Linked DNA regions of Homo sapiens. The protein of the gene in region 4 purifies or fractionates together with the protein of the main gene of each other region. This does not show direct contact. Each region holds a gene or a part of one and is shown on either strand. Other genes may lie near its edges.

Region 1 (7,885 bases), on a different chromosome or scaffold from region 4:
ATTACATAATCTGTTTAATCCCCAATTATATATTGTAAATACCTTGAAGGAAAGGAGTCTTTATTATCTTTGGTGCCTGGTGTTTAGTTTTAATATTTTATTAAATACATCCAAGGAAAGTTTTTGGTTTCTGCCTTTACTTCAAGAAGAAAGTTGTAGAACAGATAATAGTTGTTCCATTTCCATGGGTTACTGAGTAAAGACTCACCAGTTCGCCATAACAGACATAAGAGTGACAAAAAAATAAACCTTCATTGTGTAAAAAAAAAAAAGGCCAGGCGCAGTGGCTCATGCCTGTAATCCCAGCACTTTGGGAGGCTGAGCCAGGCAGATCACTTGAGGTCAGGAGTTCGAGACCAGCCTGGCCTACATGGTGAAACCTCATCTCTACTAAAAATACAAAAATCAGCCCAGTATGGTGGTGCACACCAGTAAACCCAACAACTGGGGAGGCTGAAGCAGGAGAATCGCTTGAACCTGGGAGGTGGCAGTTGCAGTGAACCCAGATCACACCACTGCACTCCAACCTGGGTGACAGAGCAAGATTCTGTCTCAAAAAAAGAAAAAAATGAAAGTTGTGTTTAGGGGGACAAATACAGTATAGTGTTTAATTAAGGACCTAGATATATGGTTTAGATGGTGCTGTCCAATATGGAAGCCACCAGCCACTTTGTGGCTTTTTAAATTTTTAAATTTAGTTAAAACTAAATAAAGTAAGCCTGGCTAACATGGCGAAACCCCATCTCTATTTTAAAAAATACAAAAATTAAATCCCAGCACTTTGGGAGGCCAAGGCAGGCAGATCACAAGGTCAGGAGATTGAGACCATCCTGGCTAACACGGTGAAACCCCGTCTCTACTAAAAATACAAAAAAAAAAAAAATTAGGTGTGGTGGCACATGCCTGTCGTCCCAGCTACTCTGGAGGCTGAGGCAGGAGAATCCCTTGAACCCAGGAGGCGGAGCTTGCAGTGAGCCGAGATGGTGCCACTGCACTCCAGCCTGGGTGACAAGCGAGACTCCATCTCAAGAAAAAAATAAAACCCACAAAAATTAGCCAGGCATGGTGGTGCACATGCCTATAGTCCCAGCTACTCAGGAGGCTGAGGCACAAAGAGAATCATTTGAACCCAGGAGGAAGAGGTTGCAATGAGCCGAGACTGTGCCACTGCACTTCATCATGGGCGACAAAGTGAGACTAAGTCTCAAAAAAAAAAAAAAAACTAAATCATGTTTTTTAGTTGCTTTAGCTACATTTCTTTGTTTTTGTTTTGTTTTTAGCCACATTTCAAGTGCTCAATAGCACATGCAGATATAGACTATTCCATTGTAGAGAGTTCTACTGGGCAGTACTAGAGTAACCAGTTAATACTTTGGGATGTCAGGTAGAGATACATGTGAAATACATGTGAAAGGGAGTGGATGTAGGTTTCCTCCTGAATGGAGGAAAAACTACTGGGGTACTCAAGAGTAGAGCTCATTGAACCAACCAATGACTGAACCAACCCGTTCAGCTTTTCCCACAGCCTGAATTCAGTTTCCCCACTAATGACCACTTAATGTTAATCCCTGTGGATGCCTGGTGTCACTAATAGGTCTTGTGGGAATAAATGTCTTTACCATTTCACTGGCTCTGGGCCAAGTTGAAAGTGTCACAGAAAGGTTATCTTTACTGAGAAAATTTTTTGGAGCCAGAGTCGGGATAGGAGGTGATATTCTCTTCCTGGTACCCATTAGAGGGAGAGGTTTTCAGGTCTGCTACCTCAGGCCCCACCTTCCACAAGCCTTGTGGTTATGGGAAAGACAGGATGGAAATAGACATGTTGGCTGCTGAGAGACAGGTTAGAGCCTGCCCCCTTAGGAGAAGGTTATAACGTGGTGGTTATTTCTCTAATAGAGGTACTTGGAAGGCTCCATCGCCCCTGAAGACAAAGGAAGCTGCTCATTGCTGCCTGGGCCTCCATTTGCCAGAGAGTTACACATCGAAATTGTGTCTTCTCCCCACTACAGCACTAATGGAAATTATGACGGTGTTCTTTACCGGCACTTTCAGATACCCAGGTTAGCTACCTAACCTTTTAAGGAGGATAGCTTCTCACCCTCATTACATTCCTCCTATCCCATGCCTTAGAACCAAGTACCCCAGAGGCCCTGGTTAAAAGAAGCCACATTTGCGGCTAGGTGCTGTGGCTCACGTCTGTAATCCCAGCACTTTGGGAGGCCGAGGTGGGCGGATCATGAGGTCAGGAGATTGAGAGCATCCTGGCTAACATGGTGAAACCCCGTCTCTACTAAAAATACAAAAAAAAAATTAGCCGAGTGTGGTGGTGGGCGCCTGTAGTCCCAGCTACTTGGGAGGCTGAGGCAGGAGAATGGCGTGAACCCGGGAGGTGGAGCTTGCAGTGAGCCGAGATCGCACCACTGCACTCTAGCCTGGGCGACAGAGCGAGACTCCGTCTCAAAAAAAAAAAAAAAAAAAAAAAACAAAAAAAACATTTCAGACAGATTGTGGTAGGCGCCTCTTGGTATATCAGGGAGACCACAGAAGAGAAATCTGAACCATGAGGTTAATTTGGACATTCCAAACAGAGACACCTGTGATTAAAGAGGGCTCCAAAAGAGCCAGGATCCTGCTCTGCCACTCATCTGTCTCTGATCCCCCTTTCTAGTCTCTCCACCATTTCCCCTAGCTCATCCTAAGACTGACTTGTTCCTTGGAGAACTGCGTGGGATCTCTGGGCGGGCAGTAGACTCAAGAAGTAGTCTGCATGTCGGGGGTGGACATGTGGTAATGAACACATGCTCATTACTCCCATTGTGACCTGACCAGGGCCACTGCTGTGTTGCAGGGTAGTCCAGGAAGGGGATGTTCTATGTGTGCCAACAATTGGGCAAGTAGAGATCCTGGAAGGAAGTCCAGAGAAACTGCCCAGGTATGCAGCTGCCTTCTGTCCTACAGCTGGGATTTGTAACCTGGGTGCATGAGTTCTACAATCCCCTCCCTGCAAATCATGTGTAATTTGTGCCCAAGAGGATTTCGTTGTCATGTATTTTGTGTGTGCGTGTGTGTGTGTAACAGGTTCTTGCTCTGTTACCCAGGCTGGAGTTTAGTGGTGCAAACACAGCTCACTGCAGCCTCTACCTCCATGGCTCAAGTGATCCTCCCACCTCAGCACTGCCTCTGCCCCAGTAGCTGGGACTACAGGTTCGCATCACCACGCCCAGCTATTGGTTTTTGTATTTTTAGTAGAGATAGGGTTTCGCCATGTTGACCAGGCTGGGCTCGAACTCTTGAGCTCAAGTGATCTGCCTGCCTTGGCCTCCCAAAGTGCTGAGATTACAGGTGTGCACCACTCACCCCCAGCCTGTGTACATTTTTTTGGAGAGAAAATTCACCTGTCCTTCAGTTCCCAAACAAGTGTATGACTGAAGAAAGGTTAAGAACCAGTCAGGCATGGTAGTGCATACTTATAATCCCAGCTACTCAGGAGGCTGGGCAATATAGCTAGACACTGTCTCAAAAAACAAGCAAACTAAAAGAACCACTCCCTGCTGGCTTTGGGAGGTGTTTATCCTCAAACTGACTGGTGGCCCTATGTAAAGCAAAGCACTAAGAAGAGTTTAGGCCAGGTGTGGTGGCTCACGACTGTAATCCCAGCACTTTGGGAGGCTGAGGCAGGCAGATCACTTGAGGTCAGGAATTCAAGACCAGCCTGGCCAATATGGTGAAACCCTGTCTCTACTAAAAATACAAAAATTAGCCGGGTGTGATGGTGGGCATCTGTAATCCCAGCTACTCAGGAGGCTGAGGCGGGAGAATCACTTGGACCTGGGAGGCAGAGGTTGCAGTGAGCCCAGATCGCATCACTGCTCTCCAGCCTGGGTGACACAGCAAGACTCCATCTCAAAAAATAAATAAATAGGTAAAATTTAAATTCTTTTCTTTTTAAAGAAGAGTTTAATGGCCTAGACCAAGACGGGATTCCTTCCTTTCCGTTCTTAGCCTTCGTGTTATTTGGACCAAGACTTGGGCCATACCATCCATATCTCAACGTAAGGATATACAGGCTCTGATTTCTGCCTTAACTACGGAGTGTGCACAAACTACTTCTCAATCCTATCTCTGAAAACAGGAGAGGGATTTCTCTTTTTTTTTTTTTTTTTTTGAGACAGAGTCTTGCTTTGTTGCCCAGGCTGGAGTGCAGTGGCGCAATCTTGGCTCACTGCAAGCTCCGCCTCCCGGGTTCATGCCATTCTCCTGCCTCAGCCTCCCAAGTAGCTGGGACTACAGGTGCCCACCACCACGCCCGGCTAATTTTTTGTATTTTTAGTAGAGATTGGGTTTCACCGTGTTAACCAGGATGGTCTCGATCTCCTGACCTTGTGATCCGCCCGCCTCGGCCTCCCAAAGTGCTGGGATTACAGGCGTGAGCCACCGCACCCAGCCAGGGATTTCTATTGTTTTTGAGAGGGCTACCCTGTCCTATCAACAGAGAATGAGAAATAGAGCATAACCGAGCCAAGAACCCAAAATAAGGAATCCAGCTTTTCTCCTCTTGTTGACTCTGACCACAGAGGTTCCATGTAAAATGGTGAGGCAAAGAATTGAGACACTGCTTTAGCCTTATGTGTAGGGAGGAAAATGTATAGCTCTGTATCCCAGCATTCCCTGTATTCTGGACTCATTTCCTGCAGCAGTTTACTAGAAGGAGAGCACAGCTGATAGATGCACTAACTCATACATAAGAGCCTTCATGTCCAAGGTCTGTGGCATAGCCAGCCTGGGTCCTCTGCCAGGAGAGACAGTCCTTGTTTGGAGTGCCTGATGTTCATCCCTGGTCAATATCCAGTGCTTGGTTCTGGCCAGTGCTCAGTACCCCCAGTCTCAGGGTGGTGGTGCTCTGTGGAACCCCATTTAGGCTCCATGTCACCTCTTCGAGGTTTTCCAGATTAAGTCCACGAGTCTGGTGGAAAATGCCAGGCTGGCACTTAGCAGTCACTTCCCACCTCTCTCTCCTATCATAAATTTAGCAAACGTCTTTGAGCTAGCTTTCAGTAGGAAAACTACAGAATGCCCACTCTTTGTACTTTCAAAGGAAAATAGGCACTAGAACCTCATGAGACAGGCTGGCAAGCCAGTTCTGTTCCTGAACTTCTATTGTCTCAACTCTGTAGAACCCTGCTTTCCTCCTGAGTGCCGAGCACATAGTTCTTTTCCCCGCAAGGAAAGCAGGGTTGGAGTAAGTGGCCCAATGGGTCCAAGGACAGATACAGATGAGCGTTTTAAGCTGCACTGGGCTTGAGAAGGGAAGCCCTGCAGAAGTTCCTGTGAGCCCTGGAAAGGAATTCCACTGTTGGTGTAGCCTCTTCATCCTGTCCCTGGTGCTCCACTTCCCCAAACCAGGCTGCATGGGAGCCAGCTCCACTATCACCTATCTGGCTGGCTGGAGCACAGCTCAGTGTTCCTTAGCAGTGTCCACATAGGTTCCAGAGCTCTGGCCTTTCTATTCACTGAGGTGGTCCAACCACCCTCCACTGAAGAAGGTGGTCTCTCCCTATGCCACAGTGCTGTCCCCCATCTCATTCCTATGCAGGGCTTCCATGGTGAGTCATACACACCATGACTCAGCTGTTGAGCTTGATCGAGATCCTAGGTTAGAGGCCCACTGTCACCTATTTATAATTAATTATAGGCAGATTCAGGCTTCCTGATGTTCCAGGTTTACTGTAGTACTTAGAAGAGTTTCATAATACTAACCTGGTATGCTTCCCCTCCACCTTGCTGCACTCTCACACCCCTTTGCTGCTAGAGAGAGCAGCTTTGAGACTGTGGGGCAGTGTGAGCAGAGGAATTTGCAGCCTGATTGGACCTTAAAGAGGACTAGGTTATAGCCTGACTCTGTCATTGCCTTGCTGCCTGAGGATTAAAGAGGGAAGTAGTTCATGATTTCTTTATCTGGAAAATTGGGTTAGTAGCTGTTCCTGCTACCCATCCTATTCCCCGTTAGTAGGTTGAATAACCCTAACTCACTATGACACTCGCCAACTACTGCGCAGCCCTGGTTATGCATCAGAATTGCTGGGGAAGCTTTCAAAAAATACAGGTGCCTAAGCCCCACCCCAGATCTATTGGGGCAGAATCAGGGTGAGACTGGAGCCTGTGCTTTTTTTCCTTCACAAAGGAAGGAGAAAGGTTAATTTTAAAAACATAAAATTCACACACCATAAAACCATACTTTTAAAGTATACAATTCAATTTTTTTATTCATAAGGTTGTACAGCCAACATCACTGTTTCATTCCAGAACATTTTCAACATCTCAAAAAGAAACTCTGCACCCATTAGCAGTCATTCCCTGTAGCTTCCCTCATAGGCAATGGCAACTGCTGATCTGCTGAATAGAATCATATAATATGTGAGAAATGTTTAGTTTTTAAAGTTACACAGATAATTCCAATGTGCAGCCAGAATACAGAACCATTATTCATCAGATGGCATTATTAAGGACTCCGCCTGCAATGAGATTTTGTGGATTATTGAGTAAGAGCCAAGGGACCCTTCCCCCTAGGGTTTTTGGGGCCTGGATGGCTGTGTATTTGAGGGGGAGACCGAAGCCAGTAGAAGTAATCAGATGATCCACTGCTTAGTGCAGCAGCAGCTTCTCCCATTGGTGTGGGTGGGTAGGCCACATGCCTGGAGAAACACACCCCCTCAGAGCTCTCATGGCTGTCATGGGGGATGCAGAGGGACAGGCATAGCTCTTGCCCTCAAGGTGTGTATGGTCTGTCAGGAAGATGAGAAAGTCCATCTGCATTCCTTTTCCCCACCATGACTCGGGACACGCTCTTGTGGTGCTTTTGTTTGTCCTCTGTGATTGAGAAACCTTGTCCTTGAGGAGGGGGGTTTTTGGACTCTGGATCTGGGGTTCATTGGGCCTTTTTCCTGCAGGTGGCGGGAAATGTTTTTTAAAGTGAAGAAAACAGTTGGGGAAGCTCCAGATGGACCAGCCAGTGCCTACTTGGCCGACACCACCCATACCTCCTTGTACATGGTGAGGCCCCAAGGATGGGTGTAGACCAGCGCAGGGGGTAGAAACGATTTTTAGAAACGAAAGCTTTTTATTACCTTTCACAGGTGGGTTCTACCCTGAGCCCTGTTCCATGGCTCCCTTCAGAGGAATCCACTCTCTGGAGCAGTTTGTCTCCTCCAGGCCTGGAGGCCTTGGTGTCTGAACTCTGTGCTGTCCTGAAGCCTCGCCTCCAGCCAGGGTGAGTGAGGTCATCACCCCAGGGTGTGAGAAAAGCCTGCTTAGAACATCCCTGGAGGAGCAGCAGCCAGATGGGTAGTTCCTAATGAACTGGCCAGAGTGGGATTGGGAGGACCTTCCTCAAACCAGTATGTCCTACACAAGGCCACCAGGCCACTCCTTTCTGTAAGCCAATTCCCAGGCTCCTTTCCTGGGATAACCTCTGTCCTCCAGGGCTGGCTCTGGAGGAAGAATCTCCAGCAGGGGCATCTGTTTCTGAGACTGCCCTTCCCCTTGGGGAGCTCACTGGCCATCCTGCACTTTACTGCCCTGGCCCTGAAGGACACAACTCCTCATACCAGTGGCCCAGGTGTGGACGCAGATCCCCACCTCAGTGCCACCACAATGTCTCTCAATACCATTCAGACCAGTCATAACGTTGAGGTTTTATTGGCAGCACAGCAATGCCAAAGGGAATTAATTAGTCTTTGGCTGTTGGATATGCTGGATGCCCCGGCCAGAGCACCGCAGGTGGTGTGGGAGACACAGCCTCACTACATGGGGACAGCCCTGTCCTGGGGTCAGGGAGGCTCAAGGAGAGAAAAACAGGGTATCTGCTTTCTAGATCTAAGGGATCTTG
Region 2 (7,885 bases), on a different chromosome or scaffold from region 4:
TAAAAATCAATTAAAATATAAGAATGCACAGAAACAGAGTGGGCCAGATTAGGCCCAGAGGCTACAGCTTACTGACCCTTTTTTCCTGATGAGCCTGGTGCTTAACTTAAAACAGACACTTGGTAAATTTTTGTGTAATGACTTAATATTGAATATGTTCTTATCCAGGTCAAATGTGCTTTTCTTGTGGTGCAGGGAGGTAATAAAGGTAGATTTTTCCTCTTAAAACCCTGAAAGCAAGAATTCATCCTTTTCTTTGGGTTTATTCTCTTTAGAAGTTAACTTTTAATTTATTAAAAGTCAGTGTGTGACCAGCCTGGACAACATAGCAAAACTTTGCCTCTATAAAAAATACAAAAATTAGCCGGGTTTGGTGGCGTGCATCTGTGGTCTCAGCTACTTGAGAAGCTGAGGTAGAAGGATAGCTTGAGCCCAGGAGGTGGAGATTGCAGTGAGCCAAGATTGTACACCTACACTCCAGTCTGGATGACAGAGCCGGGCCCTGTCTCAACAGCAACAATAACAAAATGTCAATGTAATATTTTGACCCACTCTCACGTGTCCAAAAGACTTTTAAATTTTTGTAAGGATATAATAATGTTATTCGGGCTGCAGAAAGGTAAACCAAATTTCTACGGATACATAGAATTTTGGGTATTGATTTTTATTAATACCTGAGAGTTTTAAAAACATACCTTTATGCTTTTGAGAATCCTAATTATTATCGTTATTATTTGCCCTTGAACTTTTGTATTTATTTGATCTTAGTTATCTAAGACCATGCTAGGTCTATGGTATATGGATGCTGCACTCATATTGGTAGAATATAATATGAGAGACAGTCTATAGACAAACATATTAATATATGATGACAATCTATGATATATACCATGAAGGAAGCTAACAAGCATAATGTTATGGATTAATTATGAAGGAAAGACAAGGATAAAGTGGTCAGAAAATGTATCTCTTGAGAAATATCATTTATGCCAAGACTTGAGCTATGTGAAGAGTTGAGTTGGGTGAGGCGTACCTAGGTAGAGTGATAGTATGTGTGACATGAAAGCTCAATATTTCCCAGGAGCTGAAAAATGTTTTAGATATAAATAAGGTAAGGTATTTACATTCAAGTAATCTCCAAATAACTAATTATGCAAACAGAGATTAGTATATATTGATTTTTCTTAAGATTAGACAGTCTATACTAAGAAATAATTCAAGGCATGGGGGTCAGAATTGATTCAGTTAAAAAAAATTGATTTCCAGTCTGTTCCACATTGATTGAAAACCATTCAGCTGAAATTGCAGTGGTATTATATGTATGGGTTGATAGGTGATTGACAATTGACTAATATAAATAATTGCTATACCAGAGACTATGTAGCACTAAACCTCAAATGTGCTGAAACAGTAATCAGAAGAAAATGATTCCTATGTAAACAGTTCAGTGAAATCTATAGCACAAAAATGTGGCAAACTAAGGTAACACCATGAGAGATAGCTTAGGCAAAAGAAGAATGGCTGGCAGAACTTGTGAGTTATTGAAGGAAGAAGACAGAACAGATTGAGGGGGAAAAGAGAGAAATGGAATAAGAGTAAGGGGAGAGGGAATGAGAATCTTCAGTTAGAGTAGAGGAGGAGGACAAGAGGAAGGAATTCAGGGAAAGGGGGAAGGGAGGATGCTAATATTTTAAGAGGAGCTTACTTTAGTAGTATAATTTTATATAGGGCAAAACCTTAGAAATGTCTACTTTTAGTCTTAGGAATAAATGTTATTATCTCATACCCATTGCCTAATCATATAAGCAGTTGACTATATCATTATCTCTTCTACTTCAAAATATTTGTTTTGCAGTCTTTCACTTTAAAAACTCAAAATGGAAAATTATATACTTTATTTTAATATTTACAAATATTTACAAATATTTATTTTTAAATAAAATGTATATACCATGTAGTATGTTGTATTTATTTACTCAATGTTCTTTTAAGTGTTTCAGGCTGCATGTACCAAGTAGTTCAGACGATTGGCTCGGATGGAAAAAATCTTCTGCAATTACTTCCAATTCCTAAGTCTTCTGGAAATCTTATACCACTAGTTCAATCTTCAGTCATGTCTGATGCTTTGAAAGGGAATACAGGAAAACCAGTTCAAGTTACTTTTCAGACTCAGATTTCCAGCTCTTCCACAAGTGCATCAGTTCAATTGCCCATTTTTCAGCCAGCCAGTTCTTCAAACTATTTTCTTACAAGAACAGTAGATACATCAGAAAAAGGTAGAGTTACTTCTGTGGGAACTGGAAATTTTTCTTCATCAGTTTCTAAAGTTCAGAGTCATGGTGTGAAAATTGATGGACTCACCATGCAAACATTTGCTGTTCCTCCCTCAACACAAAAAGACTCATCTTTTATTGTAGTTAATACCCAGAGTCTTCCAGTGACTGTGAAGTCTCCAGTTTTGCCTTCTGGGCATCATTTACAGATTCCAGCCCATGCTGAAGTGAAATCTGTACCAGCGTCATCATTGCCTCCTTCAGTGCAGCAAAAGATACTTGCAACTGCCACCACCAGTACCTCAGGAATGGTTGAGGCCTCCCAAATGCCAACCGTTATTTATGTATCTCCTGTAAATACAGTGAAAAATGTAGTTACCAAGAACTTTCAAAACATTTACCCAAAACCTGTTACAGAAATAGCAAAGCCAGTAATACTAAATACCACACAAATTCCAAAGAATGTTGCTACAGAGACACAATTGAAAGGTGGTCAGCATTCTCAAGCTGCTCCAGTGAAATGGATTTTCCAAGATAATCTACAGCCTTTTACGCCATCTCTTGTTCCTGTTAAGTCTTCAAATAATGTGGCTTCAAAGATTTTAAAAACTTTTGTAGATAGGAAAAATTTGGGAGATAATACTATAAATATGCCACCATTGAGTACCATCGATCCTAGTGGGACGCGATCCAAAAATATGCCTATTAAAGATAATGCTTTGGTTATGTTTAATGGGAAAGTCTATCTGTTGGCTAAAAAGGGGACAGATGTTCTGCCATCACAAATTGACCAACAGAATTCTGTTTCTCCTGATACTCCAGTAAGAAAAGACACGTTACAGACAGTGAGTTCAAGTCCAGTCACAGAAATATCCAGAGAGGTTGTAAATATTGTTTTGGCTAAAAGTAAATCTTCCCAGATGGAGACAAAATCACTTTCCAATACCCAGCTTGCTTCCATGGCCAATCTAAGGGCAGAGAAGAATAAAGTGGAGAAACCATCTCCTTCTACCACAAATCCACATATGAACCAATCCAGTAACTACTTAAAACAGAGTAAGACTTTATTCACAAATCCAATCTTTCCAGTTGGATTTAGTACAGGACACAATGCCCCCAGAAAAGTAACAGCCGTCATTTATGCTAGAAAAGGAAGTGTCCTCCAGAGCATAGAGAAAATAAGTTCCTCTGTTGATGCAACAACTGTTACTTCACAACAGTGTGTTTTCAGAGACCAAGAACCAAAGGTAATTTTCCCATGTCAGGGTGCTCTTTTTATATATCTATATAGAAAAGTTTGTTTTCTTAATTCTCAAAGTTATCTATGATACCTCTTTCCCCCACTGCCAACCCCATCACACACAGACTATACACATATGAGTATTTAAGTCAAAACTTCCATCTGAGCAAATTTGAGGAGGAGTACAGTTGGGTACAATCTTGTACAAAGGAGTACAGTCTTTCTCTTGAATCACTTGGCATGCCAAATCTTTAAAACAAAAAATTCACAGAGCAAAAAGGTTTAGAAGAGTTGGGGAAGGATAATGTGAATTCAAAGCTTAGTAAAAATATGTGAGTATATGTATATACATACATGTATATATGTATGTTCATATATAATAGCCTTTTTAGTATATGAGGAGATCAATATGCATGTAAAAGAGTTGGTTTTGGGGTTTTGTGGGGTTTTTTTGTGGTGGTGGTGGTGGTATACCATGGAAAAGGTGAGACAGGGCTAATCAATACCTTTCAGTAATTTGTGGAAATAAGATTTTATCAGCATCTTTGATGGGTTGATTTTTTTTTTGGTAGACAAATTTCATTTTCCTTTTTATTAGCTCTTTGTGACTCCTCAGCCAGTTACCCAACATGCCCACATAGTTACCTTTATGTTCGACTTAAGGTTTGTCTGTCTGTGTGCTTACTAGATATTTGTACCCATCTTTTCCTTGCTTACTTAGAGGTCTACTCAATAATGTCAGCATTTCTCCCCTTCAGTACAGAATTCATTGAACTCCAGAGATGTAAGGAGGTAAATTCTGATTGTTCAATACAAGATCGATTAAAGGCATGTGTGACTTTTCCAGAAGACTACAATTTCTAAATAATGTCATATATGTTATTTTAACGTTGTCATTAGTCTGTATTCTCATTTTAGTTGTTTTAGAATTGACTACTTATTACCTTTCTAGTGCAACAAATTAATTGAGAAATTGTAGGGGGGAATATTTTAAGTTTGTACTTCCTTATATTCAGTTTTTTGAGTGTGGGTGGTAAGGCAAGGATAATACAAACCAATCATAAAGCATGATATGTTCTTTTATGTAAGATGAAATAATCACTTAGTTGCTTAATAAAGTAACTTGAATAATTAGCAGTATTGTTTGTGTGTTTTCTTTTCCTAATTCCAGATCCATAATGAGATGGCATCAACATCAGATAAAGGTGCCCAAGGAAGAAATGACAAGAAAGATTCTCAAGGAAGAAGTAATAAGGCATTACATCTGAAGAGTGATGCTGAATTTAAAAAGATATTTGGCCTTACTAAGGATTTGAGAGTGTGCCTTACTCGAATTCCTGACCATTTGACCTCTGGAGAAGGTTTCGATTCCTTTAGCAGTTTGGTAAAGAGTGGTACTTACAAAGAGACAGAGTTTATGGTGAAGGAAGGAGAGAGAAAACAGGTAGGTAATACATTTTAATGTGCTCTTCATAGGTACTACAAATGATACATGAATATTACTTTTCTTGATTTGGTTTTAACCCTTGTGCATTAGTATAAATGATGGTTGTTACTGGTTTTGCAAATACATAATACCAAAATGATATTTAAAACAACCAGGCCCCAGCACTTTGGAAGGCTGAGGCGGGTGGATCACCTGAGGTCAGGAATACAAGACCAGCCTGACCAACATGATGAAACCCCGTCTCTACTAAAAATACAAAAATTAGCTGGGCCTGGTGGTGGTTGCCTGTAATCCCAGCTACTCAGGAGGCTGAGGCAGGAGAATCACTTGAACCCGGGAGGCGGAGTTTGTAGTGAACCGAGATCGCACCATTGCACTCCAGCCCAGGCGACAGGGCAGGACTCCATCTCAAAAAAAAAAAAAAGAACCAGGCCAGGTGCAGTGGCTCACGCCTGTAATCCCAGCACTTTGGGAGGCTGAGGCGGGCGGATCACGAGGTCAAGAGATCGAGACCATCTTGGCCAACATGGTGAAACCCCGTCTCTACTAAAAATACAAAAAATTAGCTGGGTGAGGTAGCACGCACCTGTAGTCCCAACTACTTGGGAAGCTGAGGGCAGGAGAATCGCTTGAACCCGGAAGGCAGAGGTTGCAGTGAGCTGAGATCGCACCACTGCACTCCAGTCTGGCAACAGAACGAAACTCTGTCTCAAAAAAAAAATTATATATATATAAACACCGCCCACCCCACACACACACACGCACAGGTAAAAATGCATCCCAGTTAAAGATATGTTTTAATTTTTTTTATTCACCTACTACATTTTTTTCCCATTATGTTACAAGAAAATGGCCATAGCTTTTTAACTAGTCATCCTACTTTGAGGACTCTATCTAAAGGAAATAATTCAAATGTAGTAGAAGATATAAGCATGCATATGTTCTTAATAATAACCTTTTAAGCAACTTATATAGCTAATAATGATAAAAAGAAATGTCTATAACTTTGCCTACTGTTATACTTTGACTTATGAGTATGTCATTATCATGTAATATTCTGAACTTTAGATCAGAGACTAGTAAACCTTTTCGAATGAAAATCCTCCATATGTGCCTGCTGTGCAAAGGAAAAGAAAAAAACAATCAATTTTATATCTCAGGCACTTTACAAGTGCTATTATATTTCTGTGGTGAGTCAGTATGCCTTCTAATACTTGACTTGAGCAAGAAAATGTGAATTAGGCAATTTCTTCTTACTGAATATGATTAAGACATTTTGGTACCATACAGTGGGAAATATTTCCCTCTTGCTGTAGTTGTCTTCCATAAATTTTGTTAATTGTAATAGCTAGATATTTGTTTCTGCAGACGTTGTTAAGTTTGGTAGTACCCGGTGCATTTAGCAGTAACATTTCGTTTTTGTTTTGGAATGTTATTCAATATTGCAGCAGAATTTTGATAAGAAAAGAAAAGCAAAAACTAATAAGAAGATGGATCACATAAAGAAGAGAAAAACAGAGAATGCTTATAACGCAATCATAAATGGGGAAGCTAATGTCACCGGTTCCCAACTCCTAAGCAGTATTTTACCAACTTCAGATGTGTCACAACATAACATTCTCACGAGTCACAGCAAAACCAGACAAGAAAAGAGAACTGAGATGGAATACTATACCCATGAGAAGCAAGAGAAAGGCACTTTGAATTCAAATGCAGCTTATGAACAAAGTCATTTCTTCAATAAAAATTATACCGAAGATATTTTCCCAGTGACACCACCGGAGTTAGAAGAAACCATTCGAGATGAAAAAATAAGAAGACTTAAGCAGGTGCTGAGAGAGAAAGAAGCAGCTCTTGAAGAAATGCGTAAGAAGATGCACCAAAAATAAAATCTCCTGTAAAGACTTCAGTGAAATAGCTGTTTTTTAAAATATACTTCAGCATTAATAAGTTAATTGTAGGTGTGTTCTGAAAGTGTCTTTGAATATGAAGCTTGTTTTTTCATCAGTCGATTGTACAACTTTAAGGAATACAGAAAAGGTTGATTCACATATGACTTGTGAATAATTTACATGGGGTATCTATACCTTTGTCTTAGATACCTTTTTTTGGAAGGATAAATTTTATATTTTTCTATTATTTTAACTAGAATTCTCCAAGTTTGAATATTTGGGCAGGGTTTTTGTTATTGTTTGTATCTTTACCTAAATTGCTCAGGCATTATTCCAGCAGTAGATAGTGACTGTGTATTACTGAAATTTTACAATTCAAGAGAGGAAATCAGCTCCAAACTTAGCTTTTCCAGTGGATTTGTATATGTACTTGCTTTATCTCTTTACCCTTAAAATGATGATACCTTGTATTCACCATTGTTTTTTTTAATGTCGTGAAATAATATGTATTATGGCAACATTATTTAAACATTCAAACATTTCTCAAGAATGAGCAACATTTGTAACTTTACAATGTAATTTTATATAATCCAAAGGTATTTTAGAATTCAGGCCATTTGATGTTTTGTTTGCTTATAGTGATGTGTTCCCAGGCAAATGCTGCTTTTTTTTTTTTTGGGACTATGTACATACGTTACTGAGATTGTGTAAAAAGTAGATCCTGAACAGTTATCACATTTAATATTTCTTAAACTGTAAAAGTGTATTTTCTCTGTCTGGTTAATCTTTGATTTGGGAAAGTTTGGGAATGGTGTAGGGATAGGGATTAAGAGATGGGGAGTTAGCTGAGCGTGGTGGTGTGTTTGTAGTCCCAGCTACTCAGGAGTCTGAGTGGGGAGGACTGCTTGAGCCCAGGAGTTTGAGGCCAGCCTGGGCAGCACAGTGAGACCCTGTCTCTTAAAGGAGGAGGAGGAGAACAATGTTATTAAAAAATGATCAGGCCGGGTGCAGTGGCTCACATCTGTAATCCCAG
Region 3 (7,521 bases), on a different chromosome or scaffold from region 4:
AAGAGCTGGGCTGAGTAGCTCACCTTAGGCATATCCTTGCCACTGCCCTCTCTGAGGGGGTCAGAAGCAGGGGCTGCAGGGTAGTTAGGAGGCTCCTCAGGTCTAGGTTCAGCCTGTAGCCGTTGGCGGAGCTCAGCCAGCCGTCCCAAAAGAGCAGTCACATCTTCAGAGGCCAGAGCCTGCCTGGCGCGGCCTTGCCAGCTGATGGCCCTCTCTGTGAGGCACTGCAGGGCCTCGCCCTCGGGCAGCCGCACAGGCAGTCTCTGCAGGGCTACCAGCAGTGCCAGGATGGTCTCCAGGCGCGGGCGCCTTGAGCGCATACACAGTGGACACAGGAATTTGGTGTCCCATTCCCACCAGGCCAGCAGTGGGGATGAGGTGGGATTGGGCCTCGGAGAGCTGAGGAGGCGAGGCACTGACACACACCGCCCATGGAACCAGTCCTGACACAGGTCACACTGCAGAGCTCCCGCCCCAGCCAGCACCTGCCCACACACACAGATAGAGGTTGTAGAGGAGGCCGTGCTCGATGATGCCAGTGGACTGGGCTTGGCCGAATTGGTGCGACGCAGCTGCAGGATACCCTCCTTCTCCTTCTGTTCCCCCTCCTTGAAGGCCACGATCTGCCATACCCAGGACAGGAGCAAAGTGGGTCAGCAGCCTACCCCTTCCCTTCTCTGGGCCCCCCCTTAACACCCCCACTCCCAAACCAGGAGAACTGAGGCTCAGGGGACAAGCGGTCTGCTCATGGCCACCCAGCTCAGACACTCTATCATCACCAAGCCCTTCTCCCCATCTGTGTCGAAGCTCCTTACCACAGAGCCTGGGTCCCTGAGGTCCTGCGCAGACAGCCCCAGCAGCTCTGTGTCAGATTTGTACAACCCCAGCTCCTTCTCCATCCACCGGCTGCGCTTGGTGCTGTCTGAGCCGGCATCTGCACATGGGCAGAGAACCTGGGGCAGGCAGACAAGAGAGGGAATGACTGGGCTTCCCTTACATCCCCCGCCTCCTTCCCTCCCTGGTGCCCCTACAAAACCCATGTTATCTCATGAGCCATCTCACAGAAGCCAGGGCAGGCGTTAAGAGACGCTGTAGGTCAAGGTCCCAGGCCTCACCTCCAGCAGCGTGTAGCAAGAATTTTTCTTGAGGAAGGTCTTGGAGGCCTTCTCCCTCCAGGAGTGCGCTGTCAGTACCTGTAGCTCTAGCTGTCTCAGCTCCTCCAGCCCCACAGGTAGGTCCCGGCCCACAGCTACTAGGCCCTCCAAGTCATCCAGGCAGGGGTAGTGGTCACCATTCTAAGGCCAAGGGCGAGAGACAGCTCAGTTCAACTTGCCAATGCTATTGATGCTTACTCTGTGCCTGGCCCTGAGCTGGAAAGATGAACTGGGCTCAGTCTTGAGGGATTAAAAAAATAGGTGTCATCCTAAGGAACAACCACTTGGCTCTCTCCCACAACACCGGCATCTACTGACTGGCTCAGCCCCAAATATCTAGTCAGCCTTCTGTTGTGGTTTGCCTCTTCTCCTCTCCTCCATGCCCCTGCCCTGCTCAGTCCCATACCACCTGCTTCCCTGGCCCACCAATCTCATCCTAACCAGTGCCCTCTCTTCCTTCAGGCCAGCCTCACACTCTTCCTCTCACCCTGCTCATCAGGCACATCTTGCCTCCTGACTACATGCCATGCCCCCTTCCTCTCTCCAGCCAACCCAACCCATCCCAGCAACCCAGCACATCCCAGTGTATATGCCATCTCTTCCCAGCTGGACTGAAGGCCTGGGGTGGGAGTGGCAGGGTCCTCACTTGGATCTCATCAACATCAGCAATCCAGGCCCGGGCCTTAGCAAGAGCCTCCTTGAGAGCCTGGATGTTGGGCAGGTGAACAGGGATGTTTTCCGCTTCACGGATTATGGCCTCAAGTGTGGCTGGTGGATGCTTCTGCCTAAAGGTAAGGAAAAAAAGAACGCTCAGTCTGATGTGGTCTGCCTGACCAGAAGCCCAGCCTGACCACCAGATATATCTGCATGGGCCCCTTGGGTGTCTGTTATTCCTGCTGTCACTTGGGCCTACTTGCTTGTATTCCACCTAAGGGTAGCTGCCAGTCCCTGCTTCCCCAAGACTGCATGCACCCAACTTCATCCCTTCTGCCACAGCTCTTGCACCTCTGTTTGTCTGCCAGTCTGCTGGCCTGCTAGCAATGCCTACATATACAACCTGTATTGTGTAATCTGTTGCTGCAGTTTGTCAACTGCCCTGTGTGGGGTCTTTCTACCAACATCTGCCCATCTGCCTGTCACTTGTGCTTCTGGGTATGCGCACATTAGCCTGTAGGGCTAGTCTTCTAGATAATCTCTATCTGTCCATTTCTGCTTCTCCATCAGCCTCTCTTTGCCTTTAAGTATACAGAGTTGTTTTTTAAAAAAACGACAAGATAGACAACAAAAGAGGGGAGAGTCAATACAGTAACACAGGAGCGTGATACCTAAGGCCACCCATGGGCATCCTCTTCTGGGTCTCCACTCAACTTTGATGTTTGGAATAGGGCAGGGAAGGGAAGCAGCAGCTGGACCTACCTGGCCTCCAGGCAGAGGTGGGCTTTCTCCTCCCAGCGTTCAGCAATGGTCAGCAGTTCCTGCAGCTCGGCCTGGGCTTTATCCACAGCAGGGCTAGGGGCTACACTGGCACCCGCGACCAACAGTCCTCGCATGACAGCCAAGGTGCCCCTTCGGGCTGAGGGGGCCAGTGTGCGTTTCACCTCATCCAGCCATCGCGCCTGTTCCACCTGCCGCTGGAGCTGCTGGGCCTCAGGCACCTCCACCCCCAGCTGCCGCCCCCTCTCCAACAGGGACTGCAGTAGCCCTGGACTGGAGGGCAGTGAGGCCAGGGCCTCACGAGCCTCAGCCTGGTAGGCCTCCACCTGTTCCAGAACACCCTACCAGGACACAGGATGAAGAACAAACTCCTCAGCTGGGCCCACTGAGGGGTTCCACCACCAGATGGAACCTTGTCCCACCTATCTTCTTACCCTCCAAGCTTTTGGGGCAAAGGAGCCTAACATGGGCTGAGCTCTCCTTCTCCAAGCCCTAAGACAGTTGGGGTTCCTAACACTGACTGCTCATTAGAATGCCCTGGGGAATTTAAGAATGCAGATTCCTGGGCCCCACCCTGAGAGATTCTTAATTAACTAATAATTATTAATCTATGCTTTATTTAACTTTTCAGAGGGCTCTGTTCTCAGGGCACCAAGAGACCTCCCTGCCCTAAAAATTGCTATGATTAGTCCTCACATAAACCCTTGTGCTCACCACCCTGGGGTCTGTTGCCCTCTCCATCTCACTCCTCCTCCACCTTCATGAATTTCCCTCCACTTTCCAAGCCCAACAAGCACCCCTGTTACCTCCTTCTCCTCTACCCCTCCTCCAGGAAACCTTACCTGGACTCTGTATCCTATACCCATACCCTTGCCACCTGACCCTCAAGGCCCATTTCTAACAGACAAGTCACTAGACCCTTGCCTCACCCCTCCCACCTGTTCTTTTCTCACACGTGTGTCCTGTCTTGCCTGAACACTTTAAGCTTTTGAAAGGAGCCAAGCATGGCCTGCTGCTCAGGTCCCCTGGTCCCCTTGATCCCTCATCAGCACTCCAAGCGTCCTCACCTTGACATCCCCAATCTGGTGCATGGCGCAAGGCAGGTTGTTCATCTGGTCCAGAAAGGCCCGGAGCTCAGTCAGGGTCATCTGTAGACCAGCCACCCTGTGGGGGCTATGAAGTATCACATGTGAGGTTTCAGGTCCAAACTCAGTGCCTTCCCTCCATGTCTATGCTAAGACTGAACACCTTTCCTCACTACACCTGTCCACCTTGATCTCGCATATTTCAAATTTGCCCCAATTGCCCAGGTTAGAGGGAAGGTTTTAAATTATAGAGCATGTTCATATTATGAGGGGAAAGAATTAGAAACTAATGGGTTGTAATAAGAGCTACACTTTGCAATCCATCCTCTACTGTGAACTCTAAAGCTGTGTTAGCAGGGATCAGGTCTATACATCTTTGTCCTGTTCTTACCCGTAAGCCTCCCACAACTCTTCCCTGCCCACAAAACCCCTCAGCCTCTCTCTCAGGCCACTTCCAGGTACTGATAAAAAATAAACACTTCTAGCTTTCTTATCACAGAGGCTCTCCTCTCCTTTTTAGGTGGCCTGGTCTCCTTGTCCCCCCCAACACCTTCCAGGCCATCTCACACTCTTGTGCCTGGCAGCTTCCTGCTGATGTCCATTCTGCCAAATGGTATTCACAGTCTACCCCTTGCAGCACTTTTCCTCGGTGCTGGATCCTCAGCACCTTATGTGTGCCCTAACTCCTCACGCTGTCATACCCAGCTTCCTGGCCGCTGACCAGTCCCAGAGCTCGGGACACGCAAGCCTCTGCCTCACTCAGGCAGTTCTTTAGTTGCTGCAGCAGCTCACTATTAGGAAACCTCCGCTCACGGGCTTCAGACTCTAGTGCCCTCAGTTCTTCAAGGCCTGGAAGAAAAATGAGGGCAGCAAAGAGTAGGCAGTATTGAATAGAGGCAGAGGAAGGGGGTCAGAGTACAGAAGAAAGGGAATAGAACTTGCCTGTGGAGTCCCTCCATCCCCCCCATCACTCACTGCGCTTCCGCCCATCCTCCACCTCCAGGGCCACTCGCACTTTGTTGGCCCAGGTGTCAAAGGACTCAGCCCGAACCTTCAGCTTATGCAGCATGGCAGGAAGCTCATCCAAGGTATACCGATACCTGGAGGAAGAGGGCAGGCAAGAGCATGTCTGGCCCAGCTCTCCATCCTCCTTCTTGCCCCACTTCCTCCAGAAAGGCCCATGCTCACCGCAGGTACTGCCGGCTACTGGAGCACTTGCAGAGATCATTGATGTGGGAAAGGCAGACAAGGCCGTCTGGGCAGTCGTAGCAGGCCAGGGCTGACAGGAAACACGTAGTCTTGCACTTGATACACTGGCGCTCATCATCTGGGAGCAGCTCGAAAGCCTCTCGCTCAGCCTCTGTGATACCCTAAGGGCATTTAACCTATGCGTTATATATAACCAGAACCAGGTAGCAAAATCCTCCATCTCAGCCACCACCGACCCCTACTTTAGATTCAAATCTATGCTGAGGGTCATGGGGTTTAAGAGGCCAAACCCCAGGGAGCATACCTGCCCTTTGTAAAGTCTAGACTCTCAAAGCTTGGGGAATCAGATAAACCAGGGCAAGATCAGTGTGCGCTGAGTCAGATAATTTTATAGAGGAAGAAAAATCAGGTAAGATCCAGATCAGCAGAAAGGGTCTTGTGGGTGAGAAGTGAGGAAAGTGGTGGACCAAGATACCAGAGAGGTGGCAATGAGTGCAAGTGGCCAAGGGACAGGCCTGGCTAGTTATGTGTACTGGGGAACAATATCGGCTTCCAGTTACTCAGAGCCCACTGTGTTCCAGGCACCACGCTGGCCACTTAGTAGGCAGGAGATACTTGTGCACATATATAACTTAGAGAAATTCAACCGTATGTGCTTGTGTTCAGGGTTTAAAGAGATATAATAATTTTCTCCCAACAATATGGTTTCCAAACCTAATCCAATGACTTCATCTGTTGCTCAGATAAAGAAAAAGCAATCCATTTCAAAAATGAAGGAAAAGCTGGCTATATTGGAGTAATCGAGAGACAACCCAGTGTGTATATCTAATGGGCAATTTTAGGGATTTTAATGGGAAATGTCAACTCTTAACAGTTTTTGTCTTACATACCAACTTTAACACCTAATCTCTGCATAAGTTATGAGCCCAAATCCCACTCTGCCACTTATATGCTGTGTGATCATGAGTAAATCATTTAACGTCTCTGGGTCTGTTTCATTATCTAGTAAGATGGAGATAAACAGTATCATCCTTGTTGGGTTGTTATGAGGATTAACAAAAATAAAGCAGCTATGGAATCAGACAAGTATCTCAGCACTTAGATTCAGTGTTCATCAAATATTTACTGTTATTAGCTCTAATTTTCAGATAAGAATATATATTCCACAGGCCTATCTCATTTTACTAAGGCAGAAACTAAGTCTCAGGGTCAGTAACTTGCCAAACTGAGTTAATTTTGACTCTAAAGCCAGAGAATATTCTAAGGATGAAGTCTCTAGGGTTTTTTTGGACTACAGACTCCTGAGAATTGGATGTAAACTATAAGTCCTCTTCCCAGAAACATACTTAAATACACATACAATCTCTTACAGGATTCCAAGACTATGGTGTCCAGAATGCTTCTCTGAGGTAAGGGCCAAGTGTGAAGAATTCTGAATGTCAAGATGAGAAGGTCTATTCTCCCCACCTTGCTTTGGCTCCTTCCCACAGCTTGGCACAGCCACACGGCCATCATTTAATAACAGTACTGAACAGAGTGAGAAAATGATGCCTGGAAAAGCCCAGGGACTCAACAACTTACACCACGACTGAGAGGCCCCAGACTTCCAACACTACTGTAGCTATAGTTCTCCCTATAGCCCACACTCACAGGAAAGCTATAAATGAGCTTTAAAATAAGAAAGTATTACCCTAGATAGGCAGCAAGGGATCCCACAGAACCAGCACTCCTTTGTAATCTTATGAAAGACTCTCACAAAGTCAATTCCCTAACTGGGCAAGTGTGAAATTTGAAGATGATGGCTGAAACTACACGAGTGGACTTTAGAGCTCTGTAGCAGCTTCCACTCAGCTACACACACAACTGACACAAGCTTACAAGAAATCAATTAAAGCAGGACCACCTTCAGCTTGGTAATATTATTGCCCTAGCTGGAGTTAATAAACCATCTGCATGTAATAAAATGGCAATTCCTGAGAAACATTCCAAATTTCAATCAGTTTCTTCATGTATTAACATTACCAATAATAGCAGCTGCAACATTGCAAAGGCAATGTTAGAGAGATGGCTTTCATATAAATCACCTTACTCTAACCTTACATCTTGCAAGTTAGGTATTTATTCCCACTTTAGAGTAGGAAAGTGAGATATGAAAGATCAAGTAACTTGATACAGTCACCTAGATAATCAGCAGTGAGGTTTCATATGCCAGTCTATTTTGCTAGGTCATGTAAATAATGATAAATAGCTGCTATACCAGTACCTGCCATGGGTCAGTCACTAAGCAAACATTATCTTTAATACAATCAACTATCCAAAAAGATAAGCATTATCATAATCCCATTTTTCAGAGGGGAAAACTGACAATGAAGTAAATCGACTTAAGGTTGCTGGTAAAGGGTATAGCAGAGAATGGTATGTGGTTTTCAATCGAGATGCATCTAGTTCTTTTCACTATACGCCAAGAGTAGAGGCTACATCTTCTTGGTGCTGCCTCTGCCTCCCCGAACTTCCACCAGAATAGGGTGCTTGATCTGGGGTACTCTCCCCACCTTCTCCAGCAGGGCCTTTCGTAGACGCCGCTCTTCTTGCACCATGATGAACATCTCCTTATGCACAGCTGCCGCCAGGTTCAGGTC
Region 4 (7,885 bases):
TGGTCATTGAATATTGGGTGGTTAGTGGTCACTGGACAGCCATTGAATGATAAGACATCACTTGAATTCACTGCCATGGTTAACTAACCCCTGTCACCATGAGGTGACCAGGCGTGTCATCAACATCATTGTTGTCATCATGTTAACTAGCATTTGTTGTTGTTTTTGTTTTGTTTTGTTTTGAGACAGAGTTTCACTCGTGTTGCCCAGGCTGCAGTGCAATGGTGCGATCTTGGCTCACTGCAACCTCTGCCTCCAGGGTTCAAGTGATTCTCCTGCCTCAGCCTCCCGAGTAGCTGGGATTACAGGCATGCACCACCATGTCCGGCTAATTTTGTATTTTTAGTAGAGACAGGGTTTCTCCATGTTGGTCAGGCTGGTCTCGAACTCCCGACCTCAGGTGATCCGCCCACCTCAGCCTCCCAAAGTGCTGGGATTACAGGCATGAGCCACCATGCCCAGCCTCATGGATGGTTCTTGTGTGTCTAAGTGATGGGCAGTCATGACCATGGAAGCTACTAGAAGTCCGAAGGTCACTGAGCAGTGCTTGGTGGAAGAGGTCTCTTGTCCTTGGGAGGGCATTGGTCATTGGGTAGTTACTTGGACGTCAGTAGTCCCTGAGAACTGGTCAGTAGAACTCAGTAACCATTAGCCACTATACAGACACTGGAGGTCAACAGAGTGGGATTCACAAGGCTGCAAAGCCCTTGGTCACTTGGGGGTTACTGGACAGGGAGGTCCAATGGCCCTGGGGGATCCAGGACACTTTGGGCTACAAGACAGTCACCAGTGTGGACTCCCTAGGCACCTATGGGCAGTCAAAGGCTCTGTCCCTCCCAGGCCCTGACCCCAGGGGTGGGCGCAGTCACTCACCCGGCTATCCGCACTGGGGGCCATCGTGTCAGTCATCCAGGAGCCGAAGCGGGACCCCATGGCCCGAACGGTGATGGGGTTACTGACCCCGGTCAGCTTCCCACAGCCTGGGAGGCAGGAACAGGGGGAATGAGGATGGGGAAATGAACAGCCCAAGAGAGGCCAGGCAAAGATGAAGTGCTGTGATCAAGTTGGGAAAGCTGGGACCAGGGATGAGGGAAGACTCAAAAATCTGGTCCCAATATGTTGTTCAGTTGTGAGTGAGGGGTTAGAGGCCAAGGGTCAGGGCCATTTCCAGCTTCTGGACTCAAGTGTAGCCTTAGGTAGGAAGGTCAAGGGTTGAGGTTTAAAAGTTAGAGGTCAAAACTGTGTCCAGCTTCTAGGCACAAACAGGTGATACTGGAGTTGGGTGTGGCAGTCAGAGATCAGGGGTCAGGGTCAAGGGCCAAGGCATACCCAGCTTCTGGGCGCAGGCGTGGAGCCGGGCCTCCAGGGCCATCACCCGTTGCTGCAGGTCCTCATACCCGTAGGCACCCATCTCCTCCTGAATGGCCGCCAGACTGCCGGAGAGATTCCTCACCTCCTCCCGCAAGCGTACAATGGTCCGCGTGTCTGCCTTGTACTGCTCCAGGACCGAGCTCAGGGGCAACAGTTCCGTCATCCTGTCCTTCAGCTCCTGTGCATCAAGATGGAACCATGGCCAAGCCTGACCCCTGGCCTTTGACCCAGACATGACTCCAACCTCTGACTCATAACTTCACCCTTTGTCTTTGATGCACACCTGGCCCTTGACATGTGGCTCATATTGGACCCTAGATTCTTCCCAGACATGACTCCATTGTAGGAACTAATGGATACCAAATCCCAGTCATTTGTTTGACCTCTGGTCTGGACACAGGAGGACCCACCTGGAAGCTCTTGGCCGAGAGGGACCCATCAGCTGCCCGGAGCCGCGCATCCAGGCTCCGCATGAGGGTCTCCATGCCGCGTACATACTGGAGGTCGCGATACGTCCGCAACTCAAGGACCTCCATGGACTGGGAGACGTTCTGGACCTAGGAATGGGGACAACTGAAGGGACCAGACCTCCTTCCCCAAATCCCAACCCAGAGATGCCACAGACAAGAGCTGGCAGGAACAGAGGCTGTACAAACACCACACCGACGAGGCCACCTTCTCCTCCCCTGAGCTTACCAGCAGCCTCCCAATTGCGTGCCCAATCCATCCATCCATCGCTCCCTCCCTACTACCCACTGGCTCCCATCTGGTCCACCTACCACCACCTCTCACCTCCTCCCTAGTCTCCCAGTTCCACCTTCATCCCCTGTAGTCAATTCTCTACACAGCAGACAGAAGGAACTTTCAAAACAGAGATTAGATCACCTTCCTCCTCCACAGATCCTGTGCTGGCTGGTCCTGCCCACCCCCCCCGCCCAACCCACTTCCTCTCTCTTTGTTCTCACAGACTCTAAGCTCCTTCCTTCTGCAGGGTCTTTGCACTTGCTGGTCTCTCTACCTGGAGTGCTGTTCCCCCAAGTTCCCATGGCTGGCTCCTTCTCATCCTTCAGGGTTCAGCTCCAGCGTCCCCCACTCAAAGCATCCTTCCCTGACCACCCTGTCCGGTAGCCGCTCACTCACTCTCCTCTTGCCTGGTCATTTCCTTCCCAGCTGTGACTATGTAGAACATTCTTATCCATCTGCCTCCTTCAGGTGGGACCCTCAGAGGCAGAGGCTGCGTCTAGCTTGTCCACAGCTTAACCTCCAGTGCCCAGCACTGGCCTGGAGTAGAGGCCCAATAAGTATTTTTTGGCTGAATGAGTAAAATAAACTTCCCTTGCCCTGGCCTCTCCTGACCCAACCTGAGAGCACCCAGCTCCCACCTCCACCTGGCTACGGTGAACTCCACCTAGATAAGTTGAACTCCCCCTGGCTAAGGTAGACTCCCATCTGACTAAGGTGAACATCTGGCTAAGGTAGCCACCTTGTTAAGGTGAACTCCATCTCTGGCTTAAGTAGACTCTCACCTGGCTAAGGTAGACTCCAGCTGGCTAAGGTGAACACCTGGCTAAGGTAGACTCCCACCTTGTTAAGGTAGACTCTCACTTGGCTAAGATGAACACCTGGCTAAGGTAGACCCTCACCTGGCTAAGGTAGACCCTCACCTGGCTAAGGTAGACCTTTACCTGGCTAAGGTAGACTCTCACCTGGCTAAGGTAGATTCCCACCAGCTTCACCTGACTAAAGTGGACTCTGCCTGGCTAAGGTAAACTCAGTCAGAGTTACCACTGGATGCTTGTTGAAATACAGACTTTCCTGTACAATTATTCACATGACACTTGGAAACTCCCAGAAACTCAGCAGCCTAATACCCACCCTGAACGCCACAAAACATTTTTACATACTCTTCCCTTCTCCACAGTTTCACGTTTCAGCTACCTGAGGCCAACCACAGTCCAAAAATATTAAGTGGGAAATTCCAGAAATCAACAATTTGTAAGTTTTATTTATTTATTTATTTATTTATTTGAGATGGAGTCTTGCTCTGTCTTGCCCAGGCTGGAGTGCAGTGGTGCCATCTCAGCTCACTGCAACCTCCACCTCCCGGGTTCAAGCAGTTCTCCTGCCTCAGCCTCCCGAGTAGGTGGGACTACAGGCACACACCACCACGCCCGGCTAATTTTTGTATTTTTGGTAGAGGCTGATCTCAAACTCCTGACCTCAAGTGATACACATGCCTCAGCCTCCCAAAGTGCTGGGATTACAGGCGTGAGCTACCACGCCCGGCCCAGGGGACTATTTTCTCTTGACCATGATCAGAGGTAGAAGGAAACTTTTATAGGAGCCTCTTGAGGTGGAGGGTTAGACCCTCCCCAAGGGGCACAGAACTCCTTCTTAGTAGGTGAGTCTGGTGAACTGCAAAGCTGGGTGGGACATGCCTGGTGGACCAGAGCTCACACACAGGAGACTCAGATGCTGCCCCTCCAGTCTTCCTTCCTTCCCCCCACCCCAATCCCAGTAAGTGCTTGGCTTCTCTCCCAAAAAAGCATTGAACAGGCAGGGCGCAGTGGCTCACGCCTGTAATCCCCGCACTTTGGGAGGCCAAGACAGGCAAATCACCTGCAGTCAGGAGTTCAAGACCAGCATGACTAATATGGTGAAACCCCATCTCTGCTAAAAATAAAAAAATTAGCTGGGCGTGGTGGCACACGCCTGTAATCCCAGCTACTCGGGAGGCTGAGGCAGGAGAATTGCTTGAACCTGGGAGGTGGAGGTTGCGGTGAGCTGAGATCGCGCCACTGCACCTGCACTCCAGCCTGGGCGACAGAGTGAGACTGTCTCAAGGAGAAAAAAAAAAAAAATACATTGAACAGATATTGGATAAAGTATCCATCTGGGCATGGTGGCTCACACCTGTAATCCCAACACTTTGGGAGGCTGAGGCAGGAGGATCACTTGAGCCCAGGAGATTGAGACCAGCCTGGGCAACATAGGGAGACCCCGTCTCCACAAAAAATATAAAAATTAGGGCATGGTGGTGCATGTCTGTAGTCCCAGCTACTCAGAGGCTGAGGAGTGGGGATTGCTTGAACCTAGGAGTTTGAGGCTGCAGTGAGCTGATCATGTCACTGCATTCCAGCCTGGGTAACAGAGTGAGACCCTGTGTTAAAAGGAAAAAAAAAAAAAAAGGACCTGCCTGGAGAGGAGCTGGATTATCAGCCAGCTCTGAATAATTTGCATAGCTGGATATGGCCACTGGCTGACCTGGATGGGGCTGGAGGGCGGGGTGAGAACTGGGAGATTTTCCCAGCTGCCCCCAGGGTACCTGGAAGGTTCTCACCTTCTCCATCAGTTGCCGCAGCTCCCGACTCCTGCCATCTCGAGAGCAGGTACTCTGCGCTGGGATCACGGCCGTGCAGATGCATTTCCCGTCAGGGGCCTGGGCTGAGGTGTACAGCTGCCAGCCCTCTTCTGGGTTCTGGAAGAGAGTCTGCAAAGAGGTGGGGGTCAGAGACCGGAATCCCAGTGAGGGTCTCGCCTCGCCCTCACTGGGACAGGAAGGGGGCCCAAGGAAACCACAGATGCCCTTTGCTGGGCTCCGGGCATATGCCAGTGCCTGTTGTGTGTGATCTCAGGCCCTCCTTAAGGAGCCTCATTTCACGGATGGCAAGACTGAGGTGCGGAGGGCTTAAGGAACACGGCAAGGAATTGGAGGACTCAAATCTTCTCCAAGACCAGAATTCATTCTCTCACACAGATTTGCACGCACACAACACTGTCTCTGTGACTGCCATTAGAACAGAGATCCACTCAAATAACCCCCAAACCTGGACCTCCTCTCTGCTTCCCCAGCCCACAGTGACATATCGGCTCTGGAGCTATCTCAGGGCCACTTAATGTTTTTTTTTTTTTTTGGTTTGTTTTTTGTTGTTGTTTGTTTTTGAGACACAGTCTTGCCCTGTCACCCAGGCTGGAGAGCAGTGGCGCGATCTGGGCTCACTGCAACCTCCGCCTGTCTCCAACACCTGGCCTCCACTCCAGCCTGGGTAACAGAGTGAGACCCTGTCTCACAAAAAAAAAAGGATCTCACCTCAGGTGATCCACCCGTCTCAGCCTCCCAAAGTGCTGGCATTACAGGCGTGAGCCACCGTGCCCGGCCATCAGGGCCACCAAATGTTAAGTGCAACCCTGCTGTGCCCCCACCTCACCTGGAGCCACCCAGGCAAAGTGATGGCAGACAAAATGCTCAGATAATCCAGTGACCAATTATGGCTTTGTTTCCCAAGCCATACTCCTTCCAACACTGGTAATCTTACCAGGTGTGCTGGGAAAAGGATGCTCTGTGGTCAAATAAATGTGTGTCACTGGGTGAAACAAGTTTTGTTACTGCAGGACTTATCAGAGGCTTAGAAATGCAAATAAGTACCAGGGAACTCTAGACACAAATCATAAACTTCCAAACTGATTAGAAGACACCCCTGAGGCAGGTGGATCACCTGAGGTCAGGAGTTTTGAGAACAGCCTGGCCAACATGGCAAAGCCCCATCTCTACTAAAAATACAAAAATTAGCCAAGTATGGTGGCGGGCACCTGTAATCTCAGCTACATGGGAGGCTGAGGCAGGAGAATGGCTTGAACTTGGGAGGCGGAGGTTGCAGTGAGCTGAGACTGCGCCACTGCGCTCCAGCCTGGGCGACAGAGCAAGACTCCGTCTCAAAGAAAAAAAAAAAAAAAAAAAAAGAAGATATCCATGAGAGTCTCTTCTGTCCCAGGCATAGGGTCTGGGATAGGATCAAGGAAGAGAAGGAATGAAGAAAACATCTGGTGGTTGTCCATGGAGCTACTAGGAGAGACGGACATCAACCACTTAATGCCAGTGATACTTCTAGAACCACATGCTGCAGTGAGTGCTTTGAAGAAGTAGTGCAGGGAGTAACAGGGGGTCTTCCCTCAGGCTGAGGGTCTCTGAGGAGGTATCCAAGAGAATGGGCTCTTGAGATGAACTTGAGGGACGAGTGAGACAGAAGAAAAGGAGAAGGCAGGGGACATTTCTATCATTACAAATCCTGATCAATGTCTGGAGGGACCCAGGAATGGTGGCTCACGCCTGTAATCCCAGAATTTCAAGAGGCTGAAGGGGGCGGATCACTGAAGGTCAGGAGTTTAAGGCCACCCTGGGCAACATAACAAGACCTCATCTATACTAAAAATTAAAAAAAAAAAAAAATTAGCTGGATGTAGTGGCATGCACCTGTGGTCCCAGCTACTCACAAGGCTGAGGCAGGAGGATTGCTTGGGTACAGGAAGTTGAGGCTGCAATGAGCTATGGCTGTGCCACTGCACTCCAGCCTGGGTGACAGAGTGAGACCCCATCTCTTAAAAAAAACAGGCCAGACGCGGTGGCTCACACCTGTAATCCTAGCACTTTGGGAAGTGGAGGCAGGTGGATCACCTGAGGTCAGGAGTTCCAGACCAGCTTAGCCAACATGGTAAAACCCCGTCTCTACTAAAAATACAAAAATTAGCCGGGCATGGTGATGTGCGCCTATAATCCCAGCTACTTGGGAGCCTGAGGCAGGAGAATCGCTTGAACCTGGCGGGGTGGGGGCAGCGAGCCGAGGTTGCAGTGAGCCGAGATCACACCACTTTACTCCAGCCTGGGCAAAAGAGTGAAACTCTGTCTCAAAAAAAAAAAAAAGGATGTGGGGGGACGTGAGGGTTGTGGGGTGACTGGCTTGGGCTTGCACACGTAGGCGTCGTTTGTTCAAAACCTGAAGTCTTTGTTCAAGACCTGAAGGAAGTGAGGGAGGAGCCATTTGGATGTCTGGGGAAGGGGTTCCAGGCAGAGAGAACAGCAAGTAGAAAGGCTGAGGCAGGACCATGCCTGGTGTGTTTGTGAAACAAGGAGGAGGCCCATGTGGCTGGAGCAGATTGAGTAAGGGGTAAGTGGAGGCAGATGAGAGAAGGGAGGTGATGGGGCAAGGCCTTGTGGGAAGCAGTGAGGGCTCTGGGTTCTGCCCTGAGGAAGGTGGGAGCCATGGAGGGTTCTGTGCAGAGGCGAGACGTGACCTTACTTGGGTGTTCACAGTGACCTCTGGCTGCTCTAGGGAACGAGGGAGGGAGGCCAGGGCAGGGGTGACTGCACAGATCCAGACAGGTGATGATGGGTGGTGGCCATAGAGGCGGTAAATGGAAGATTCTGGTCCTATTCCAGGATGCATTCTGACAGGCATGGAAGAAATTCTGATTAAAAAAACCCCAGTGTTTTACAGAGAAACAAAGCACCACAATCATTGATCATTTGCACAGCCATTACTAGATCTCCCAGCAGAATCGGTGCCGTGAGCTGCAGCACAGATAAACCAAGCTGTGAATTATGAGCGATCCCGGGGACTCCAACTATTAGCCCACCTTTTTCTCTCCCACTCAATCGAGTCTTTTTTTTTTTAAGGCTTATTGGAATATGAGCAAATGATATAATTGTACAAATTATACAGATGAGCTTGACTCCCCC

The links.
Region 1: the proteins of OLFM2 (region 4) and PEX6 purify together in Homo sapiens (affinity purification with mass spectrometry; 2 studies listed by BioGRID and IntAct, with this or other methods). This does not show direct contact.
Region 2: the proteins of OLFM2 (region 4) and LRIF1 purify together in Homo sapiens (affinity purification with mass spectrometry; 2 studies listed by BioGRID and IntAct, with this or other methods). This does not show direct contact.
Region 3: the proteins of OLFM2 (region 4) and KDM5C purify together in Homo sapiens (affinity purification with mass spectrometry; 2 studies listed by BioGRID and IntAct, with this or other methods). This does not show direct contact.

What each region holds. Positions count from the first base shown.
Region 1 is NC_000006.12:42,969,050-42,976,934, reverse strand, and holds part of PEX6 (peroxisome biogenesis factor 6), read left to right. Parts: intron 1-1,896; coding exon 1,897-2,060; intron 2,061-2,848; coding exon 2,849-2,932; intron 2,933-6,947; coding exon 6,948-7,050; intron 7,051-7,133; coding exon 7,134-7,267; intron 7,268-7,885. UniProt on the Homo sapiens protein: Component of the PEX1-PEX6 AAA ATPase complex, a protein dislocase complex that mediates the ATP-dependent extraction of the PEX5 receptor from peroxisomal membranes, an essential step for PEX5 recycling.
Region 2 is NC_000001.11:110,946,923-110,954,807, reverse strand, and holds the end of LRIF1 (ligand-dependent nuclear receptor-interacting factor 1), read left to right. Parts: intron 1-1,992; coding exon 1,993-3,520; intron 3,521-4,684; coding exon 4,685-4,957; intron 4,958-6,408; coding exon 6,409-6,849; 3' UTR 6,850-7,618; downstream 7,619-7,885. UniProt on the Homo sapiens protein: Together with SMCHD1, involved in chromosome X inactivation in females by promoting the compaction of heterochromatin.
Region 3 is NC_000023.11:53,194,116-53,201,636, forward strand, and holds part of KDM5C (lysine-specific demethylase 5C), read right to left. Parts: coding exon 7,435-7,521; intron 5,044-7,434; coding exon 4,862-5,043; intron 4,831-4,861; exon of another isoform or gene 4,774-4,830; coding exon 4,649-4,773; intron 4,523-4,648; coding exon 4,375-4,522; intron 3,762-4,374; coding exon 3,656-3,761; intron 2,930-3,655; coding exon 2,571-2,929; intron 1,940-2,570; coding exon 1,801-1,939; intron 1,374-1,800; exon of another isoform or gene 1,296-1,373; coding exon 1,116-1,295; intron 954-1,115; coding exon 816-953; intron 624-815; coding exon 24-623; intron 1-23. UniProt on the Homo sapiens protein: Histone demethylase that specifically demethylates 'Lys-4' of histone H3, thereby playing a central role in histone code. Does not demethylate histone H3 'Lys-9', H3 'Lys-27', H3 'Lys-36', H3 'Lys-79' or H4 'Lys-20'.
Region 4 is NC_000019.10:9,855,934-9,863,818, forward strand, and holds part of OLFM2 (noelin-2 isoform 2 precursor), read right to left. Parts: intron 7,589-7,885; exon of another isoform or gene 7,446-7,588; intron 4,862-7,445; coding exon 4,712-4,861; intron 2,243-4,711; exon of another isoform or gene 2,164-2,242; intron 1,929-2,163; coding exon 1,782-1,928; intron 1,550-1,781; coding exon 1,330-1,549; intron 981-1,329; coding exon 874-980; intron 1-873. UniProt on the Homo sapiens protein: Involved in transforming growth factor beta (TGF-beta)-induced smooth muscle differentiation.